Homo sapiens: one gene and its partner. The protein of the gene in region 2 interacts with the protein of the main gene of each other region in a pairwise test. Each region holds a gene or a part of one and is shown on either strand. Other genes may lie near its edges. The genes, in order: PTPN5 and ZBTB5.

Region 1 (3,812 bases), on a different chromosome or scaffold from region 2:
TAAGGCTGGAAAAGGAGGCTGGGGCCACACGAGGTAAGGGGTGCTGATGGTGTATGCAGGTGGTACCAAGTTCTGGAGAACTTGGAGCAGCAGATCAGATGATGATGGAGGTCTTCTCACAGGGGAGAGCTACCCGGTCCAGACAGGCCCAGGGCGGAGGCCAAAGGAAGGGAGCTATGAGGGAGGAGGCACCTGCTTCTGTACCCCTGTGGCTTCTACCAGGAGGAACTCACCCCAGATACTCTTGGCCTCTTGCCTTTTCCTGCTCACAGAAGTGAGGAGTTACCTGTTTGGTGAATTTGGTTGAGGAATGGAGCTTTGGAGCCTCAGCCCCTTCCTTCCTCCTCCTCTCAGGGCCCTCCTGCCAGGAAAGAATTATAGGGGTGCCCCCATGCGGCAAGGTCCGAGATGTGCCGGCACCCCTGTGGAGGGTGGAAAGTGCATGTAATTCTGGGTCTCAGTATCGGGAGGCTCACTCTTGCTGTACCCTGCTAAGCCACATTTCCAACCTGTATTTTATTGACAACAAAGGTGATATTGTAATCTCCTATGCCTTAGCTCTTAACTGGCTGAGCACTCAGGCAGGTAAACAGGGGTGCCATTTATTGAGCCCCTCAAAGTCCAATAGGAGGCAGCTGGAGGCTGCTGCAGAAGCCAGGGTGGAGGTGATTAGGACCTAAGCTAGGGCCCCAGGGGTGGTAACGAGGGGAGGCCACTAGAGAGATTTCAAAGGCAGAAGAACAATGCTCGGCAGGAGGAAAGTGGGAAAACAGAAGAGTTAGAAGTGAAGGTTCTCTGTGGCTTTCAGAGCACAGCACTGGGCAATAAAGACTTAGCATTGTCACTGTACCTCCATCACCTGGCTGGGTGCTCTGCACATGTTATAAGTCTCTTTAATCTTTGCAACAATTCTATTATTTTCATCCCCATTTTCCAGATGAGGAAACTGAAGCTCAGAGGGAAAGCAGCTTGCCCAAGATGGTGGGAGAGCTGATAATAAAGTGATACTAATCTACTGCAGATGCTGAGTTCCAGGCACCACGCTCCACCACCTGGGCAGGTGGATGATTGACATGGGTCTGCACACAGTGGGGCGACCGGCTCAAGGGAACTCACAAAGAATTCCGCCTGCAGCAGGAAAGGGTCCAGGGCCTTTTCATGAAGCTCTTCTGCTTGGAGGACACGGGAGGCGCTGAGCAGGTACTCGCGGGCGGACTCCTCACGTGGGGACATGAGATAGCCAAAGCCCTCCTCGTTGCAGCCCGGAGTGCACATGTCCAGGGTCAGGGAGACATTGGAACCCCTCCTGGAAGGACCAGGAAAGGGAGTGTGAGCCTCAGGGGCAGAGGGACGGGCATGAGCTGGGGTCTCCAGGGCTGGGAAAATGAGGGAGGGAGAGATCAGCTGGGAACAGGGTGGGGTTGAGGAAGAGGAGTGGGAGTGTGACAAGACCCCCTGACAAAGAAGCGTGAATCTCAGCCCTGAGGCATTGGCCTGACTCCCTATCTCCTGCCTCCTGCAGTGGAGATGTTAACTTAGTGGGGATTTGGGGCTCCAGTTCTAAAAGTTCCATCCAAAGCTACCCCAACATGGCCTTACCCTGGACTCTCCTCCATCACCGTTGGAGGAAGTTCTACCCTGTGGTCCCCAGGAAGCTCAGAGAGGGGACACCTGCCTGAAGCACAGAAGCGGGGCTTGGGCCCGAGAGGATGGCTCCAGACCCTCCCCACTGCAGTCCCGGGCCCAACAGCCCTGGGATGAGGCTGCTGGTGAGTCAAGGACATATTGTCCAGGAGAGGCCAGGACCCCCGCTGTCAGGAAGGAGGGAGTCCCAGGAGCAGCACGGTGGCCGCAAGGATGTCTACAATGGGCAAACTCTACTATACTCAGAGTCTCAGACACAGGACAGGATGGGGCTTCATTACATAGAAAGAGAAACTGAGTCCCCATGAAGGGCCAAGAGTTGTCCAGGCTCTCCCAGTAAGGGGGTGGCAGAGCTGAAATAAAAAGCTAGGTTTCCTGACTCCACACCCAGTGTTCTTTCTGTGACATCACATGGGTAACTCAAATTTGGTGTGATCTGGCTCACCCACCTAGACTCTGAAACGAGGGTGTCTACACTTCTCAAAGTGTGCTCTGTGGAACACTATGAGCTACCCTATAAAAACAGGTTCTAATTGGGTACCCAGGTACATAAAGATGGCAACAATAGAAACTGGGGACTACTAGAGGAGGGAGGGAGAGAGGCGGGCAAGGGATGAAAAACTAACTGCTGGGCACTACGCTCAGTACCTGGGTGATGGGATCATTTGTACCCCAAACCTCGGCATTATGCAATATGCTCAGGTAACAACACTGCACATGCACCCCCTCAATCCAAAATAAAAGTAAAACAAAAAAATAGAGTTCCGTGGTCAAGTGACTTTGGGAAATGCCACATACTGCCCCCTTGCTGATTTACAATGAACATAAGCATGTTAAAGGCCCTGACAAGTCCTGCAGCAAAGAAAACCACCCAAACTTACTTGAGCATGGGAGAGTGTGTGTGAACATGTGTACACCTATGTGTGCGTGTGCAGTAACAGTATTTCTCAGCATTCATCTTGGGGCACTTTGATCTCTATGAATGACCTGGATAGCACATGTCTACACTGGCTAAGCTATAAGGCCAGCTCTGCCCTGGGCACCAGGAGTCAGAGTCAGGCATCCACTCTTCTGATCAGGAGCTAAGAGCTCAAGGGCCCGTGGAGCCCACCCCTCCTCCACCCCTCCCACCTCTCCTGCAGACCCATGGACTTGACGGTGAGTGAGGTGGGGTCAGCCTCAGGCTTGATGTCCATCACACAATCAAACACAGGAGTCTCGGGCACCGGGTCGAGGTCCAGGAAGTCATCCTCGATCTTCTCCTCCATCCACTCTGAGTAGGTGAAGGAGGGCTGGCGGCTCACTGACTGGCGCCTGTCCTCAGGGGGCAGTGGGGTGGGTGGCTCTGGGGGTGTCCTCAGGAGGTGCCACACCTGGTTGGGGTGTACAGCATCACAGATTTCGGACCACGCTGGCTGCCCCCCGTGTTCCTGGAGTGCCCATGGGATTGACGCCCCCCCACTCCCTCAGTGTGTCTAGAGCAGCTCTGCTCTCCTGGGAGTTGTCCACAAGGCACTGCCCCTGGCCTCGATGGGAGGCTCCATGCCCACTCTCCTTCCCTGCCCCTCCCTCTCCCAGCTCTCTGTTTCTTGTGGCTTCAGGCCTTCTCAGTGGGGCTTGGGAGTTCCTACACCAGTCTTCTCCCTGTCTCATCCCCTTTCCTTAGCCCAGATCACTGCAAACCAATTTTCGGAAAGAAGGAGGCTCTTGCCCCAGGCTGGCACACTTGTGCAAAGAGATAGGTATCCCTCCTTGCCCCACCCAGAATGTCCAGCCTATAAGTCAGATGGGAGCTGGTAGAAATCCAGGCCTCAAGGTCAGAGGAGGACAGCCTTGAGGTTGGGGTCAGGAGGCGCCTTACCAGGGTGGTAACGAGGACCAGGCCCACGGACAGAAAGACCAGCAGCAGACTGGGGACTCCCCACGTCCCAGAGTCAAGCCAGGCCTGGGGAACATCAGATAAACAGGTCAGGGTGGTGGTGGGGGCAGAGTTCTCAGCTCTTGCAATGATGACAAAACCAAGATTCTGAAAATCACGTCCCAGGTCTGGGATGGGGAGCAGGCAGAAGAACTTCAGGGGCTTGGAAGTATCTTCTGAACTCAGAGAAGCCCAATCTGGAGGTTGGGGAGGGTGGGACTAGAGGCCCCCAACAGATCCCTGCTACCCT
Region 2 (3,812 bases):
CAATATCTCACATTCGGTTTAGTGTACATATTTTATGACTGTGTAAATATTGTCTACGAATGAACTACATATTGTGTCCTGTGAGTAAACAACCTTTTTTTTTTTTCCTGGAGTTAATCATTGATCCATTTAAAAACTTCTTGTTTTTTTTAATGACCTATCTGCACACTTGGATAGGACTGGTAAATTACAAGCACTCCCAGTCACATCAGGTTATCTATCCATTCCTTTTTTTCCCACCCCCCTTGGAGACCCACTCCTTGGAGTCCTTCCTGCTCCAGTCTGACTGCTTTTGCTCTCCAGGCCTGCTGCCTAGTTGTCATCTGGAGCTTCATCATCATCCTTGGGATTCCCTTTGCCTGTCTTCTCTGGTGGGTCTCCTGTTTCCTACAATCTTAGTCGCCTCCTGAGAAAGGATAAACCTTTGGGTTCTTATCTGAAAATGCCTTAGTTTATCCTAATTGATTAATAGTTTAGCTGGGTGTGGCATTCTAAGTTGGAAATCATTTTCTTGGATAATTTTGAAGGAACTGTCATCTTCTAGCTTTTAGTGCTGCTGTGGCAAAGACGAATGCCAATTTTATTCCTGATGTCAGCCTAGTGTGGGGATTTGTATCTTCATATTTTGAGTACTTGTTGGGCCTTTTTAGTCTTAATAAGCAAATTTCTTCAGTTCTCAAAATTTAAAAAATACCATTTCTTGGCCGGGCGCAGTGGCTCATGCCTGTAATCCCAGCACTTTGGGATGCCAGGGTGGGCGGATCACCTGAGGTCAGGAGTTCAAAACCAGCCTGACCAACAAGGTAAAACCCCTGTCTCTACTAAAAATACAAAAATTAGCCGGGTGTGGTGGCGTGCACCTATAATCCCAGCTCGTCAGGAGGCTGAGGCAGGAGAATCACTTGAACCCGGGAGGCGGAGGTTGCAGTGAGCCGACATTGCGCCACTGTACTCCAGCCTGGGGGAACAGAGCGAAACTCTGTCTCAAAAACAAAACAAAAAACCATTTCTTACATCATTTTCACCCTCTGTATTCTTCCTTTTCTCTTTCTGTAGTCAAGATATTGGACCTGATTAATTCCTTCTCTTATTCATTCACTTATTTTTATTTTATTTTCTGAGACAGGGCCTTGCTCTGTTGCTTAGGCTGGAGTGCAGTGGCCCAGTGACAGTTCACAGAAGCCTTGACTTCCCAGGCTCAAGTGATCCTCCCACCTCAGCCTCCCAAGTAGCTGGGACCACAGGTGCACGCCACCATGCTCGGCTAATTTTTTTTTGAGACAGGTTTCACTCTGTCACCCAGGTTGGAGTGCAGCAGTGCGATCTCTGCTCACTGCAGCCTCTGCCTCCCAGGCTCAAGTGATCCTCCCCCTTCAGCCTCCTGAGTAGCTGAAGGCACATACCAGCATGCCCGGCTAATTTTTTGTATTTTTGGTAGAGACAGGGTTTCACCTTGTTGCCCAGGCTTGTCTCAAACTCCTAAGCTCAGGCAATCCTCCCACCTCAGCCTCCAAAAGTGCTATAGGATTACAGGCATGCGCCACCACATCCTGGTGTTTTTTTGTTTTTGTTTTTTTTAATTGGATAGATTTTCAGCCAGGCCTCCTGCCTTAGCCACACCTTCATTCCATTTCCCCTGGCAAGGGCAACCAGTTCCTTGGCCTTTGGGAATGAGATTTATATATGTTAGGTTGTTTTATCCGCTGCCCAGTTTAGGATTTTCGCTTTTGGGGTGTGCTGAGTCAGTTAGCACTCATTTACCTCTCCCCAGCTTCCAAAATGCTATTGAAGGCCTTCTCATTCTCTTTTTCCTTGTGGGTTTACACCTTTAAAGTTTAAACAAAAACTTTAGTGTTTTTTTTTTTTTTCCTTTGAGATGAAGTCTCACTCTGTCGCCCAGGCTGGGAGTGCAGTGGTGTGATCTCAGCTCACTGCAACCTCCGCCTCCTCAGCCTCCCGAGTACCTGGGATTACAAGCATGCACCACCATGCCTGGCTAATTTTTTGTATTTTTAGTAGAGACAGGGTTTCATCATGTTGGTCAGGCTCGTCTTGAACTCCTGACCTCAGGTGATCTGCCCGTCTCAGCCTCCCAAAGTGCTGGGATTACAGGCATGAGCCTCCATGCCGGGCTTCGTGTCATTTTAGTGGGGTTTCAGGAAAAAGCACGGGGCAAATGCGTGTGTGCAATCTGCTACCATCTATAACTGGAAATCTTCCACACTAATATTGATTTGCCCTTTTCACTTATTTAGGGTTCCTAAGACTTTGGAATTTCTTGGTATTCATTCCTCATCCTTAGGGAATGCAGAATTCTAACAAACTTCTGTGGGATAGATATGCCATCACTCACACACTGGTCTTTACTAATTTAGACCCTTAGTGTTATACATGGCTCATATGAAGAGTAAAGGGGAGCCTGTCGGTAGCTAGGCCCACATGTGTGCATGCCTCCTGGGCTGATGGCTGAATTGCCATTTGCTTCTTATATGACAAGCTCTTAGTGTATGTGCCCATTATCAGAGATATCACGGGCTTCAAAGGTCCAAGCTTGGCCATCCATTCCACTCTTTTCATCATACCCTTTGTGTTCTGACTTTGAAGCTTTTCTAGGTCTTAACATTTTCTTTCTTTGTTTTTCTGTAGGATCATGGATTTTCCTGGTCACTTTGAACAAATCTTCCAGCAGCTGAACTACCAGAGACTTCATGGCCAGCTCTGTGATTGTGTCATTGTAGTGGGGAATAGACACTTTAAAGCCCACCGCTCCGTGCTGGCAGCATGCAGCACGCATTTCCGAGCCCTGTTCTCAGTGGCAGAAGGAGATCAGACCATGAACATGATCCAGCTGGATAGCGAGGTGGTGACAGCAGAGGCCTTTGCTGCACTGATTGACATGATGTATACCTCCACCCTCATGCTGGGGGAGAGCAATGTAATGGATGTCTTATTGGCAGCCTCTCACCTGCATTTGAACTCTGTTGTTAAGGCATGTAAACATTACTTAACGACAAGGACGCTGCCCATGTCTCCCCCCAGTGAGCGCGTTCAGGAGCAGAGCGCCCGCATGCAGCGCTCCTTTATGCTACAGCAGCTGGGACTAAGCATCGTGAGCTCAGCCCTCAATTCCAGCCAGAATGGCGAGGAGCAGCCAGCCCCCATGAGCTCTTCCATGCGCAGTAACCTGGATCAGCGCACGCCCTTCCCCATGAGACGCCTTCATAAGCGCAAGCAGTCTGCAGAGGAGCGGGCCAGGCAGCGCCTCCGACCCTCCATAGATGAGTCTGCCATTTCAGATGTTACACCGGAGAATGGGCCTTCAGGGGTTCATTCTCGGGAGGAGTTCTTTTCACCAGATTCTCTGAAAATTGTGGATAATCCTAAAGCTGATGGAATGACTGATAACCAGGAAGATAGTGCGATCATGTTTGATCAGTCTTTTGGCACTCAAGAAGATGCCCAGGTGCCCAGCCAGTCTGATAACAGTGCTGGCAACATGGCACAGTTGTCCATGGCCTCTCGTGCAACTCAGGTTGAGACTAGTTTTGATCAGGAAGCTGCACCTGAGAAAAGTAGTTTTCAGTGTGAAAACCCTGAGGTTGGCCTTGGTGAGAAGGAGCACATGAGAGTGGTGGTTAAATCTGAGCCCCTGAGCTCACCTGAGCCTCAGGATGAAGTGAGCGATGTGACCTCACAAGCAGAAGGCAGCGAGTCTGTGGAAGTGGAAGGAGTTGTGGTCAGTGCCGAGAAGATAGACCTCAGCCCTGAAAGCAGTGATCGGAGTTTTTCAGATCCCCAGTCTAGCACAGACA

Evidence for each region.
Region 1: the proteins of ZBTB5 (region 2) and PTPN5 interact in a two-hybrid assay, tested with the Homo sapiens proteins (one large-scale study listed by BioGRID and IntAct).

Annotation. Positions count from the first base shown.
Region 1 is NC_000011.10:18,739,487-18,743,298, forward strand, and holds part of PTPN5 (tyrosine-protein phosphatase non-receptor type 5), read right to left. Parts: intron 3,590-3,812; coding exon 3,506-3,589; intron 3,018-3,505; coding exon 2,776-3,017; intron 2,402-2,775; exon of another isoform or gene 1,307-2,401; coding exon 1,117-1,306; exon of another isoform or gene 938-1,116; intron 1-937. UniProt on the Homo sapiens protein: May regulate the activity of several effector molecules involved in synaptic plasticity and neuronal cell survival, including MAPKs, Src family kinases and NMDA receptors.
Region 2 is NC_000009.12:37,441,390-37,445,201, reverse strand, and holds part of ZBTB5 (zinc finger and BTB domain-containing protein 5), read left to right. Parts: intron 1-2,646; 5' UTR 2,647-2,650; coding exon 2,651-3,812. UniProt on the Homo sapiens protein: May be involved in transcriptional regulation.